Homo sapiens: one gene and its partners. The protein of the gene in region 1 purifies or fractionates together with the protein of each later gene. This does not show direct contact. Each region holds a gene or a part of one and is shown on either strand. Other genes may lie near its edges.

Evidence for each region. The genes of interacting proteins can lie anywhere in the genome.
Region 2: the proteins of RTN1 (region 1) and PRXL2A purify together in Homo sapiens (affinity purification with mass spectrometry; 2 studies listed by BioGRID and IntAct, with this or other methods). This does not show direct contact.
Region 3: the proteins of RTN1 (region 1) and DERL2 purify together in Homo sapiens (affinity purification with mass spectrometry; 2 studies listed by BioGRID and IntAct, with this or other methods). This does not show direct contact.
Region 4: the proteins of RTN1 (region 1) and SLC7A3 purify together in Homo sapiens (affinity purification with mass spectrometry; 2 studies listed by BioGRID and IntAct, with this or other methods). This does not show direct contact.

The regions. Positions count from the first base shown.
Region 1 is NC_000014.9:59,860,564-59,864,518, forward strand, and holds part of RTN1 (reticulon-1), read right to left. Parts: intron 1-3,955. UniProt on the Homo sapiens protein: Inhibits amyloid precursor protein processing, probably by blocking BACE1 activity.
Region 2 is NC_000010.11:80,414,959-80,418,550, reverse strand, and holds part of PRXL2A (peroxiredoxin-like 2A isoform 1 precursor), read right to left. Parts: intron 1-3,592. UniProt on the Homo sapiens protein: Involved in redox regulation of the cell. Acts as an antioxidant. Inhibits TNFSF11-induced NFKB1 and JUN activation and osteoclast differentiation. May affect bone resorption and help to maintain bone mass.
Region 3 is NC_000017.11:5,479,679-5,483,270, forward strand, and holds part of DERL2 (derlin-2), read right to left. Parts: intron 3,205-3,592; coding exon 3,131-3,204; intron 1,712-3,130; coding exon 1,618-1,711; intron 1,465-1,617; coding exon of another isoform or gene 1,423-1,464; intron 905-1,422; coding exon 709-904; intron 467-708; coding exon 376-466; intron 1-375.
Region 4 is NC_000023.11:70,925,079-70,928,188, forward strand, and holds the end of SLC7A3 (cationic amino acid transporter 3), read right to left. Parts: coding exon 3,067-3,110; intron 2,943-3,066; coding exon 2,720-2,942; intron 2,546-2,719; coding exon 2,406-2,545; intron 2,307-2,405; coding exon 2,204-2,306; intron 1,964-2,203; coding exon 1,797-1,963; intron 1,616-1,796; coding exon 1,449-1,615; intron 1,101-1,448; coding exon 992-1,100; intron 866-991; coding exon 735-865; 3' UTR 501-734; downstream 1-500. UniProt on the Homo sapiens protein: Uniporter that mediates the uptake of cationic L-amino acids such as L-arginine, L-lysine and L-ornithine. The transport is sodium ions- and pH-independent, moderately trans-stimulated and is mediated by passive diffusion.

The sequences.
Region 1 (3,955 bases):
CTTCAGACCCCAGAACAGTAGATCCATCGACAGCTTGCACCATGTGCCTGGAAAAGCCACAGGCACTCAATGCCAGCCTATGAAAAGAGCCAGGAGGGAGGCTGTACCCTGAAAAGCCACAGGGGCAGAGCTTCCCAAGACCATGGGAACCCACCTCCTGCATCAGTGTGACCTGGTTGCCCAAGATCATGGGAACCCACCTCCTGCATCAGTGAGACACGGAGTCAAAGGAGATCATTTTGAAGCTTTAAGATTTGACTGCCCTGCTGGATTTCAGACATGCATGGGGACTGTAGCCCCTTTGTTTTGGCCAATTTCTCCCATTTAGAATGGCTATATTTACCCAATGCCTGTACCCCCACTGTATCTAGGAAGTAACTAAGTTGCTTTTGATTTTACAGGCTTATAGGCAGAAGAGACTTCCTTGTCTCAGATGAGACACTGGACTATAAAATTTTGAGTTAATACTGCAACGAGTTAAGACTTTGAGGGACTGTTGGGAAGGCATGATTGGTTTTGAAATGTAAGGACATGAGATTTGGGAGGGGCCAGGGGCAGAATGATATGGTTTGGCTGTGTCCCCACCCAAATTTCATCTTGAATTCCCACGTGTTATGTGAGGAACCCAGCGGGAGGTAATTGAATCATGGGGCAGGTCTTTTCCATGCTGTTCTCATGATAGTGAATAAGTCTCACAAGATCTGATGGTATTATAAGGGGGATTTTCCCTGCCCAATCTCTCTCTTTGCCTGCTGCCATCCATGTAAGACATGACTCGCTCCTCCTTGCCTTCTGCCATGATTGTGAGGCCTCTCCAACCATATGGAACTGTAAGTTGATTAAACCTTTTTCTTTGTAAATTGCCCAGTCTCGGGTATCTCTTAATCAGCAGTGTGAAAATGGACTAATACAAGTAATAATGTAACAATAACAATGTCAAGTTAGGGGCACTGTTGTCTTTTAGGAAGATATAAACATCTTAGTGTAACTAATGACTTCCTTTCTGCTTTCCCCACATTAAAATGGCAACCTGGCTTTTGCTTGAACATCACTAACTGGGAGAGAATCTGTCTTTTCTGATCAGTTCTAATTATTAGAACATTTTCTTTCATTCAGAAGAAATCTACTTCTCCACATCACTAGTCCTAATTTTGCTCTGTGAAATCAGCTGGGTCAAGTCTTCTTCCTTTGCTTCATGAAAGTTCTTCTAGTATTTAACATTCAGATCTTCATTCTTTTCTTTTGGATAAAAATTCTTAATTTCTTTAACTATCTCTCAAATGGCATGTTTTCCAAAAGCCTCCCAATTGCCCTGCTCTCACCGTATTATAGCTCGTCAATGTCTCTCAAAACATGGCACCTACCCTTTAGTATGAGAATCCAAATTTGGCCTGCCTAGAACAGAATCTAGGGGAGCTATTACCTCGTATAATGTGCACCTGAGACTTTCTATTAATACTATCTGAAATTACATAAGATATTTTAGTAATTTCACCATACCACTAGCTCATATTTAGCTAATTACAAAATTCCCAACCCCCACCATGAACTATTTTAAGTTGCATCTCCTACGTTCTATACATATTAAATAGAATTTTCAGAACTTATAGTCAACATTTTACATTTATAATGTTACAGGCCACTGTTCTTCCTTCCCCCTAAAAGCCCCTAGGCAGAATCCTAGGCCATTATGTCCCTTCCTAAAGATATCCATTAGCGTCTGGTTTACTGTAATTCCCAGGATCTGTCATGGTTCATTGTGATGTCAGTAATCATGTAGGTGACTGTTTCACTCCTATTTTCACCTTTCTTCTGGACTCCTCCAATGACCTTGTCATCCACTCCATCTCAGTTTTCCACTGCTTCTCAGTAATAGTACCCCTCCTACTATCTACCTCAAACACCCCAGCTACCAAATCATCATCTCTTATCCTTTCATCTCCCTTACTCTAGTACCATTACTCTAGCAACCCTGCCAGCATATACAATCCACTGCTTATGTCATCTTTTTACTATGCTTCATTCCTCCTCAGCAGATTCCAAGACCAAGCATCTATATACTGCCTTGCATATATCCTCAAATCCATTTCCCATCTGTTCCCACTGGGATCACTGGAAAACAAAAATCAATCCAACTAACCCTGCACTCTAAACCAAAAACAAGATAACATATACAGTGATTGGTCTCACTTTAAGCTCTAAGTGAGCCCCAAGGGCTACTCAGTGTTCCCTCAGTTTGCCCTAGTCCTTTCACTCTCTCATTTTCCCAAACGACAATTTTATACCTTCTCCCCTCTTCTCAAACTTTCAACAATTCCACTCCTGCCTTCACTCTGTTGACCCTGCTTCCTATTTCATTGATAAAATAGAAGCAGTTAATGGAAAACTTCCACCTGTTCTCAGCCCCATCTCCAACCACTCCCTGCAGGTGTGCCCTCTCCTCTGTCTTTCCTCCATTATAGCCATGAACTGTCCTCACCTTTATCCAATATCAGCCCTTGTCTGTGTGCTGGATCCATCCCTGCTTACTCATTCAGAGACACAGTTTCAGGAAATGCCCCCACCTCCCGCAACACCAATCTTTCCCTGACTACTGCATCATTTACATCATCTTGCAAATATGCCTTAATATTCTCCATAGCAAAAAAAAAATACTTTCCCTTCTTTTCATCTCACTCTCCATACAGTTACCTCTTATTCAGTTTCCTTTATAACAAAACTCCCCCAAAGAGTCAAGTCTACAAATACCATCTCTTATTTTCTCCCCTCTCATTTGCTCTAAAACCATTTCAACCGAGATGTTTTTCCCGGCACTTTGAATGACTTCCTCATTGTCAAATCCAGTGGCTGGCTCTCAGTCTCTATCTTAACCACAAGCAGCATTTGACGGAATCAATCATTCTATTCCTCTTGACATATATTTATCTTTTCTTCTGGAGTCTCTTTCAGTTTTCCTACTTCGTCGCCCACTTTTACTCAGTTTTCTTTGAAAGACCTCTGTATATTTGAGTGACCCAGGACTCCTTGACCTCATCACTGTCAACACTCACTCCCTTGGTGATCTCATCTCTACACCAACAACTCCCAATGTATATAAGCAGATCAGATCACTCCCCAGCCCCACTCTACACTGCTTACTTGACATCTCCACTTGGACACCAAACAGACATTCAAAAATTAACATGTGTAAAACCAAACTCCTGTTTTTTCCCTAAAACTTGCTCTTCCTAAAGTCTTCCCAACCCCAGCTAATAACAACTTCATTCTTGTGTTTACTCAGGCCAAAAATCATGGCATGTCCCTTGTGTTCTTTCTAACACATTACATACATTCAGAATATATCTAGAATCCAACCACTTTTCACCTCTTCCAATGCTGTTACTCTGGTGCAAGCCACCATGATTTCTTTCTCAGATTATTGCAATGGCCTACTAGTAGGTCACTCTTGCTCCACACCAACCACCACCACCCCCATGTTAGATTCTCAACGCAGTGACTAGAGTGAGTCATTAAACTTAAAACTGAACTCTAAATATGTTCCTTCTCTATTTAACACCTCTCCCATTCCTGTGGCTCTCATCACACTCAGAGTAATATTTAAAGCTGTTACAAGGGCCTATAGGACCTAATCTATCCACTCCTCTCTACCGCTGACCCTTTGCTCATCCCCTATCATTCTCCCCTTGCTTACTCCACCTCACTGCTCTTCCTGTGGTTCCTTCAATGTGCTAGGCACACTCCCACCCAGGGCCTTTGCAAAGGAAATTCCCTCTGCCCAAAATGTTCTTCTCTCAGACATCTGCAAGACTGTTGTGTCACTTCCTTCAAGTCTGTGCTTTAAAGATACCTTATCAAAGAGGTCTTCTTTGACTATCCCTCTCATTCCCATTACTCTGTTTTGACCTTTTTCACAATACTTAATCATCCCTTGATATAGATGTTCTGGTCTCTGTTG
Region 2 (3,592 bases), on another chromosome or scaffold:
AGGATGTCTCTAAAGGATCAGGAAAGGCCCTGGAAATCCAAATGTCACTGCCAAGGGTGGGGGCTGTGAGGGGTGCACTGCATGAGGTGGGGGTGGGAGTGAGTTGGTGGTGACTTTGGGAAGGAAAGGGTAGGCCAGACTAGCATTGAAGCCACATGGAAATTCAGATTTAAGAAACAAAAGAGGCAGCCATAAAAAAAGAACGAAATCATGTCCTTTGCAGCAACATGGAGCTGGAGACCATCATCCTAAGTGAACTAACCCAGAAACAGAAAATCAAATACCACGTGTTCTCATTTGCAAGTGGGAGCTAATCAATAGTATACATGGACATGAAGACAGAAATAACAGACACTGGGGACAGCTGAAGAGGGGAGGGTGGGGTGAAAATTACCTATCAGGTATAAGGGTCACTATTGGATAACGGGTACACTAAAAGCCCAGTCTCCATCACTACACAATATACCCATGTAACAAATATGCATATGTACCCCATGAATCTAAAATAATTAAAAAAAAAAAAAAGGAATAAGAGAGAACCTTGGTTGAGTGCGGTGGCTCCTGCCTGTAATCCTAGCATTTTGGGAGGCTGAGGCAAGAGGGTTGCTTGAGCCCAGGAGTTTGAAACAAGCCTGGACAACATGGGAGGACCCTGTCTATAAAAAATTAGCTGGGCATGGTGGCACACGCCTGTGGTCTCAGCTATTTGGGAGGCTGAGGTGGTAGGATCACTATAGCCCAGAACTCCAGCCTAGGTGACAGAGCAAGACCTTGTCTTTAAAAAAAAAAAAACAAAAAAAAAAAGATGAAGAAGAAGAAAAGAAGTTCCAGGTAACGGGGGTAACCAAACAAAAAACAACATCTAAGAAAGAGGAATTTGGCATCTATATACTTGGGAAGCGGAAAAAGAAGGGGAAAATCAGTGCCTGTGTGTGTTGGGGAAGGGGGTGCTGCTATGGTTGTCTTGAAATGCCTAACCTTGTTTTTACTCTAACTCGCTACTTTGAATTTTATCCTGCTTGTCTCTTTAATCACCTAGCCTTGCTTCTCCTGTAAATAAGACTCTTTCTAGCTGGGAAAGCCAGACAAACTCCAATTGACCCCTTAATTTACAAGACACTAAGGGCTCCTTACCCAACCCCCTTCCGCAAGGAGTTGACCTGTGTAAGCAGATCCTCAGCGTTTCAAAGGAGCCCAATTAACTGATAAGGTACTAGCACCAACAATGTATGAAGTTCCCAGGATTTTTCTTAAAGAGATAACAACATAAAGCCTTGAGTTCGGGTCCGACATACTCCCTATATCTAATTATAATGAAAGATTTAGAGCCTTGCACCTGGTACCGTTGCTCTTTTTGTAACCATTTGTCTTTTAAATTGTTTATCTCTCTGTAACCATTTTGCTTCTTTTGATTCTTGCATGTTTTTACTTCTGTAGAATTATTGCATCTGAGTCCCCCTCCCCTTCCTAAACCAGGTATAAAAGTTAATCAAGCCCTTTCCTCGGGGCCGAGAGAATTTTGAGCGTTAGCCGTCTCTTTGGCCACCCGCTTAATAAAGGACTCTTAATTCGTCTCAAAGTGTGGCGTTCTCACTAACTCGCTTGGGTACAACAGTCTGACATGAGGGACCTGTGCTGAGAAAGAAGAGTTTCTTACTACCCACTATTCAAAATGTAACCAATAAATGGCACCATCTAGAAACGAAGAATCTCAACCCCCACCTTAGAACTAAGGAATCTTATACTGCCTTTTAGTCAGACTGGCAGGCAATTCATAAGCACGTTAAAGTTTGAGAAGCATTGTGTTAGAGCAAAGAATTCAGGACTTCGTGCTTGGTTGGCCATCAGCCACCAGAATAAAGTAAAGTCACGAGGGCGGTCTGGGCTTGGAGAGCTGGGCCCCCCGCCAAGACCCTGAGAACAGAACATTACAGACGTGCACACATCTCTACCCCTCTGCCTGGAATATCCTATTTCATTCTGTGCTTCACAACTCAGAGGCCTCTTTAAGAAGGCTTCCCTGATGTTCTGCCAGCCCCCTACTTCCAGCCTCCCACTTCTACCCCCAAGAGGTGTTGATTCACCCCCTCCTCAGTTCTGTGCCCAAACATCACCCACATTTCTTCTGATGTGCTTGACACACTGGTTTGGACCTGTCAGATTTCTCTCCTTTGGTGACATTCTGCAGTTTATCTCTGAATCTCTCATACCTAGCACAGCGCACCTCTGGTACAAAGCAGGCTCACCACAAGTGCATGCTGAAATGAATTCAACAGAATTGAATTACAGAGACAATGGCTTATGGACAACTAAAGTTCTTGGGACAAACAGGAAAGAACCTGCCACAGGCCTGCTTCCAATTCTTTAATTTGACAAAGTTACACATTACTGGATGACAGTTCACAGAACAATTAGGAGGAAAACCACAGCTCTTATCTGCTTGCTGTAAACAAGAGATTTCCCAGAGCCTGGAACAACTTCTGTACCTTTATGCACTTCCAAAATGTTCCTGGATTTCTGACTTGTGTTATGACTCAGGAGCACATAGAATGGTCTCTGATCACAGATTTGATGGGCATTTCTGCGTCAGTATACAAAGACCAGTTTACATCTATCCCACAAATGGACTCTGACTCCTAGGACACATCAGTGCATTCACAAAGTCCAGGGCCCCTCACAGTCAGCTCCACATTCTTCCAACACACCCCTGCCACACTCAAACAGCCTCCACCTTCCCACTGTCCAGTGATGGGCGTTTGGCATGTTTGCTCCTAGGCACAAGAGAATTCAACTCAACTAGACTCAACATTTATTTCCAAACATTTATTCAGTACTGACCTGTTCAATAAATGGCGATTTGGGAGGACATAAAATGATACACAATCCTCAAGAAAATATGGACCTGGTACACAAATAACAAAAAAATATCAAGTGGGAAGGTGAGGCAGCTTGGGCAATGTATGGGCATGAGGCTATGGTGGTGCAGGAATAACAGCCAGTCTGGGTAGCCACAGAAGCACCCAGAAGGAAGTGGCTTTGGAGCCGGTGTAGGACACAGGAGGCAGCATGGACAGGCTAGGCTGGGATGGGGCCAGCTAAGCTGGGAGACAGCAGGCTGACTGGGGCAGGTGTCAGTGCTGAAGGAACCCTGAGAACTCAAACCTCTATGTTCCAAAGACCCCCATCTCCATACCTCAAGTTCAAGGGCTGGGTACAAGATCCAGACCTCAAAACCCCCATAAGTGCTGTCTTCTGACCTCCCACTGTGATCCTGAAAGTGTGAGCAGAGATTCAGCCCTCTGGGGCAGTGGACCCCATCCTCAGGCACTGCAGCACCATGCTGAGAGTGTTATCAGGACCAGTGGTGAGCATCAGGCCTCTCCATGGACAGACCGCACCCAGTGGGCCTCTAGCAGCCCACTCTTGTGCCAGAGAGAAGCACAGAAAATTCACTTCCAGGAATACCTGGAGAGCACACAGGCCTAGCCTCTTATCCAAGTCCCCTGGGCTACAAAGCAACTCCCATCCTGGCATGTCTTGAAGCACGTACTACTGTGACTTGCTGCACAGTGAGCAGACCCTGAATTCTGAA
Region 3 (3,592 bases), on another chromosome or scaffold:
AGGCCACAAAGTCCACCATCAGAAACTTTCATCAGTTTTGCCCATTTTGCTACCTTACTTCACTAAACGTGGACAGCAGCTTTCATAAAACCAGCAGGCTCCTACCAGAATAGAAGTTCTAGTGGTCATCTCTAACAATTACCAGGTTACTCCCAAGATATCTTGAGCCTGTTGACGTTGGTCTTGCCACAACCCTGGCACTGTCTGCTCCTACCCAGTCCAAGTGCTCTTCAACTGTAGCCAGAATGCTCAATCTGCAAATGGTTACTGACCTGAGCTATGTGTACTAGGAGCTAGGGGAGCCAAAGAAAACACAGATCATGCCCCTGTCCTGGTTTGCCTGTAAGAGTATGTAACCTGGTGTTAAATACTCACAAAATAGATGGTGTTTTCAGAATTCTTATTCCACCAGGTTGATTGGGAAATACATCTTCCAAGAAAAAATATATGTGTCCAACTGCAATACCTAGAGTCAAGCAGAAATAAAGGATGAGGGAGAGAATTAAAATTTAGATTGCAGGTAGACCTACCAACACAAATTGCCTATATTTAGGATGAATGTCAACATAATTATTAAAAATTAATGAACTAATATTGTGGTATTTTACAATAGGTAATACGTGAAGGCCAAACAGAATAAACATGAAAAATAGTAACAAAATACTTTTACAGGTAAAATAATTTAAAAAATAGTGAGAAGAGCCTTACCCAAAAGGTCCACAATGATTGAGTTCCCCAACAACAAGGAAAATCCCATGAGCACCCAGGGCAGAAAGGGGGCCTGGAAGTTGAGAAGGCCGAAGAAGTTCATGCGGACATAGGGGTTCCTTCGGCTCCACACATAGACGAGCATTATTGTAAAGGCCTGGCCCAAGAAAACTAAGCTCACAAACAGACCAAAAAGCTAGCAGATGGCATTAAGGAAAATATCAACATTAAAAGTTTAATAGGAAAGACTGAGCAGGAGAACTAAAGATTGTGTTCTAACAGAAGTTTGAATTGGAAAAGTCAAGTTGTTACATCTTTAGAATAGAAGGAGAAACACCCAGAAAATAATTACCCAGAGCAATCAGGCAAAAATCTGCTTAGGCTAAATTATCGAGATTTACAGCTACTTCAAACAAATACTCTGCTTTCGTGAAGTTCTTGCCTCTTTGGAAAATGTGTTAATTCTTCAGTCAATAATTATATTAAAGCTTGCTCACGATTAGCACCTTTACAGAGATGAATAAAGCTAGCTGGAACAAAACCATCTTGTCAGACCGTACCATATCTAAGTCTATTGTATAGATGAAAATTCTTTTTCTGAAAAAATAATTTATTGGTTTTGGTAGCCACCAAGTAAATGTCTTACCAACTTAGTTTAAAAGTGAAGTACGCCAAGCAGTAATGATATAACTGAGTTGCTTAACAGTAACCCACCTGGGTTAAAAGTTCCTTTGACTTGCTCATCCTGTCCGACTGCTAGGTTTGGAAACTTGTCACAGAAAATGTGCTGTAAAATAAATGATAGTGCCCTGAAGCTAAGATCTAGAGAACTGTGGGAGACAGATGACAAGCTTTAGGAAGAGCCAGGGTGTTCTTCAACATTTTCCCGTGTTGTTTGTTGAAGGATACGGTCATTAAGAATCCACCAAAAAGGAACATAAATACAAAGTCTGCTGTCCGACCTCGGAAAGAGCCTTCTTCTAGCATTCGACAGTAACGATATCTTAAGTTCCAAGTTAAGAAAATATTAAGCACACGAATATGAACAAAGTAAAAATTTAATGTTATCTTGTAAGTACACTTGGATTCCATATTATTTGTAATTAGTCAAGTCTTCATTTGTATAAGAATGTTTGAGTGGTAATGTGATTACTTTTTTACCAAGCATTTGAGAAAAGGTCAAGACCAGCATCATTTTTTACAAACTGTCCCTGGCTGGGAACTAATCCAGATGACACACAGACATGCTTTCAGTCCCCTATTCTTTTTTTTTTTTCTTTTGAGACAGAGTCTCGCTCTGTCACCTAGGATGGAGTGCAATGGTGCCATATCGGCTCACTGCAAGCTCCGCCTCTCAGATTCAAGCGATTCTCCTGCCTCATTCTCCTGAGTAGCTGGGATTACAGTTGTGTGCCACCATGCCAGGCTATTTTTTGTATTTTTAGTAGAGAGCAGGTTTCACCATGTTGGCCAGGCTGGTCTCAAACTCCTGACCTCGTGATCCACTGCCTTGGCCTCCCCAAGTGCTGGGATTACAGGTGTGAGCCACCACACCCGGCCCTCCAGTCCCCTATTAAACCTTTAAAAATTTGTATTGTCTTTCCTGTGCTCAGCCACACCTTAATATGCACCATCTTTGCTTTCCCACATCCTAACTTGGAAGAAATCCGCAGCAAGAAGCCTTGTGTGCTCAACTACTTTTCCAGCCTGGCAGGTTGAGCACCTCAGTCAATAAAGATGAATTACGATGAGAAAAAACTTTAATGGAAACTTATCAGAATGATATCCTACATAGGATATAAAATGGATTCCTGCCATCCTCAGGAAGGAATGCAGCTGCAGATGAGTTGAACTGTAACTCCCTCTTAATACAGAGGGCAGGGGTGGAAGAGGAATGCCCTGCTCTGTGGCCCCAATTACCATTGGATCAGAGCTGGGGTTTTCCTTTCAACAAACCGGAACTTGACAAGCCCAGCAGACACAACCACTGTCTTTCAGCCAGTAGTTCCAGCAACCAGGACCCAAGGAGATCTCAGGTTCCCACTCCTCATGAACCCATTCCAAAACTTATGCCCAAATTCTGCTGAATTACCATTGCATTCAGGTTGTTTTACGGCTTCGAACCTGTTGGTTACTGTGGAGGTATGCCTCAGTTAAATCAATTCTCCCCTCCCTTGATCAGATTTGTAAGTAACAAAAGAGCAGAAGTGCTATCTTTTTATGGTTAAAACCTCCCATTTGAACAAAGTGACCTACAGACATTTTCAAAACATTACTACCTAAGCAACTACTTTATGTACCACTGACCCAGAAATCATAGCTAAGATGGTACCAAAAACAAGTAACAGGATGAAAAGTTTCAACTTAATTTTTTACTTCCTAAGAAAAAGTTTTGATGCTGACCCCATTTAATAAAGGATACAGAAAAATCATGTTAAATAAAAAATTGAATCCAACTGGCCCAAAAAATAAGAAGTTGGTGATTAATCTCCATATCTGTTAAAAAAAAATCAAGAGAAAGATGTATTAAGTAAAATAAATTACCAGGAAACAGTTCCATATTAATACAAAAGAAACATCCTATGACTGCGGTGGTTGAGAAGCCTTGGACAGAGTGATACTCTGTTCTGAAACAAAAACGGGGGCATATAATCTGATGTTAGATTTTTTTTGCTGCTTTTAGTTCAAAGTCTGAAAGACATCATTGGGACTGTGACATTTATAATAATAGGAAAGAAAATTTTAAATTGTGATCGTCGTATGGAGAAAGTTTGCTGGAAAGACTAGGTTAATCGGCAGAACAGAAAACAGTGCTTTCATATGTAGTATCATCATATAATAAATAGAACTGACATATCAGAGAAAAACTTCAGGGTCTAATATA
Region 4 (3,110 bases), on another chromosome or scaffold:
TTCTGCAGCAAACAGTATCCATATATTAATATATGTGGTCCCTTACCAAACCCCCTGACTATCCACCCCTCCTCCCAGCAGTGCCAAACACCGCAGCCAAAATTTCTGATGCTCAGGCAGTTACAGGAGTGTGGGACTGGTCCAACTAGAAGAGGTGGAACAGAAGCCAATAGTTTCAGTGTAGGCCCTAACCAATGTCAGTGTTGCTATCAGAGTCCACCCCAAATCCCAGAGACAAGTGTTGCTGTCTACTTATCCAGAACCTAACCTTAAGTGTAATGAGGGGAAAACATATCTCAAGACCATTCCTTTAAGTGTGACTGGACTGGATGGCTACCTACTTACACCACCCTCCTCAAACCCTGATTCAACAAGAAGCACCCACAGGCACAGCAGATGCTTTTGTGGTAACTGAAGAAAACACAAAGGACACTTCTCTGAGGCTCTTCACTCTTAAAAGTCAGGCTCTACATCTTTAGCAAGCAAAAAACAGGACACAGTTTATTTTTCTACTTTCTTTTAATATCATTTTTTAAAGTTGGTAAGCAGCTAGACATCATTTAGAAGCAGACGGGTTAAAATAGACAAGAAATAGCAAAGACACATCCTTCACATCGTACAGAACTGTATTAGTATCCACCACCACCATCACAGGGGAGGGCTAGCTGTCACTGGGGTCAGGAGTACTCTCCATTATTGTGCAGGGGACCAGACAGCATTTAGGTGTGACGATGTCAAACTGAGTGGACATAGAGAGTGCCGGGATCAAGGTCTACAGTTTTGGCTCTAGACTTGCGTGAGGGTTGGTTACTCTTAATCTCTTCCAGGCTGTGCTGGATCCCATAGCCGAAGTAGATAGCAAAGCCTAGTGGGGAAAGGTAGCTGTGAGGTGGGGGTGTAAAGGCTTCATAGGTTTCCTACTTGAGACCAAGAGGGAAAGGAGCTGGGCTAGGACACCAAAGAAGCCTACTCTTCCCAAGTGGATACCTACCAATCAGCATCCAGACCCCAAATCGGGCCCAGGTACCAGCTGTCATCTGCATCATAAGGTAAATATTCACAAAGATGCTCATTAGTGGGAGGAGAGGCAAAGCAGGCACCTGAAAACAAAGTAAAATCTTCTTTGTACATACCACAGGTTGACCTAGAAAGAGATCCCTATCCTATGCAGGCCAGAAAAGGGTGAGTCCAACTCTTACTTGTCCTCTGCATTTCAGTAGCTGCTCATTTAGCATACCTCATGAGACTCCAAGAATATGCAGTTTGGGTAAATGGAACTGGAAAGGAACTAAAGAGGGTCAGAGAAGAAGTCTTTGGCCTAGGTACCTCCTATATCTTCCCTTTCATGTTCAATTAAAGAATATCTATGAACTTTATTAGACCTCAAGATATCTGGAGCCTATTCTCCCAAGATGGGCTGGCAAGGAAAAAAGACAGAGTTCATTTACCTTAAAGTGAAGGGGAGTGGAACTCTGTGGCTGTCTCCAGATGACCACAATGATCCCAATAATGAGCAGCAGGAGCAGCACAACCACTGCAGTCCACAGCAGGTCTCCAGAAAGCAATGGAACTGACCACTGGGCCAGCACCAGGCAAAGAGCAGTCAGCAGGACAGCTTCAAAGGTCAAGTTGAGAGACATCAAAACCAACTCTTAAGACCAACATGCTAAGACATTAGAAACCCTGTTCCAAGGAGAGTCGCTCTCTCTCTAGTTCTTCCTCAGCCACCAAATGCCACACACTTCGACCCAATCACGCTGATCTCAGAGCCACCCCAGAAAAATTCCACTGCTCACCAAGCAATGAGGAACAAACATAGACAATTTGGCCAGAGAGTGGAGTGGGGATGGAGTTGAGTGGGAAAAATAGTCCCCATAGGGTCAACTTCTCTGATTCAGTAGTTATTGCCTCCTCCTGCAACTCCACTTCTTCCCCAGTCTTTGTCTCCTGATCAGGTTGATACCTGAGGCAAAAGTAAGATGGCAGTATTAAGAACAACCTTTACTCACTTTATCATCTTCTCCCAGGCAGCTTAACCTTCCTCATCACCATTAAGGGAAGTTCTTTTTGGCAGGGTGAGATACCCAGATTCCTCAAAGAAAGTTGGAATAATGAAGGCGAAGGAGGAAAGAGGAGCAGATCTCCATCATTCCTCATCCAAGAATAAAAATCCAAATCACAGTATGCAGAGGAAGAGTCTCACCTGAGGATGAGAACACAAATCGACACCAGGGAGTAAGCAAGCAGGGTCCCAATTGACATGAGGTCCACAAGATCAGTGAGTTTGAAGAGGAATGCCATGAATGCTAAAATTAATAGGCAGGAAACAAGAAATGAGAGAAGGGAGTGGCAAAGTTAAAGAAGTTGGCGAAACAACTAAGGGAAGGGGAAAGAGGGTCTGTTACCTGCAATAATGCCAGAGACCACGGTGGCTATGATTGGGGTGCGTGTGCCGGTGTGGATCCGAGCAAGTACACGGAACAGGAGGCCATCCTCTGCCATCGCGTAGATCACCCGAGGCATGGGGAACATGGAGCCCAGGAGGCTGGAGAGGAGAATGCCCAGGGTGGCATGAGTTGACTGGGATCTCTCTTCCCAAGACTGTATGTTTAAAGAGTCTCCACTTTCCCCTCACAGCCCTTTTAAGGGGTATTCTCTGGTACTGAATGCTATAACCTGAGACTCTGACAGCAGAAGAAAACAAACATTTGATACTGACCTGGTAGAAAGAGCACAGAGGGAGCCAACAGCCACAACATAGCGGGCAGGAGCCCATCCAATGTAGAGAAATGCCTCAGGCAAAGGGCTCTCAGGCTGAAGCTGGTAGTAAGGCATCATCAGGGTGAGTGCAGAAGAGACAGCAAAATACGCCAAAAAGCAGACAGACAGTGAGATCACAATGCCCATCGGGATGGAACGCTGGGGATTCTGGGCTTCTTCTCCTGAAGGAAGGGCGTAAGGTTCTAAATTAGGGAAGCAGGCCCACTCCTCTACCACCCCCAGTCTGCATACAGCCTGGGCACACACTGTGCCCAAGCCCCAAACAGAATGGAATGACTGTGTTACCAGTGGTAGCAATACAGTCGAAACCAACAAATGCATAGAAACAG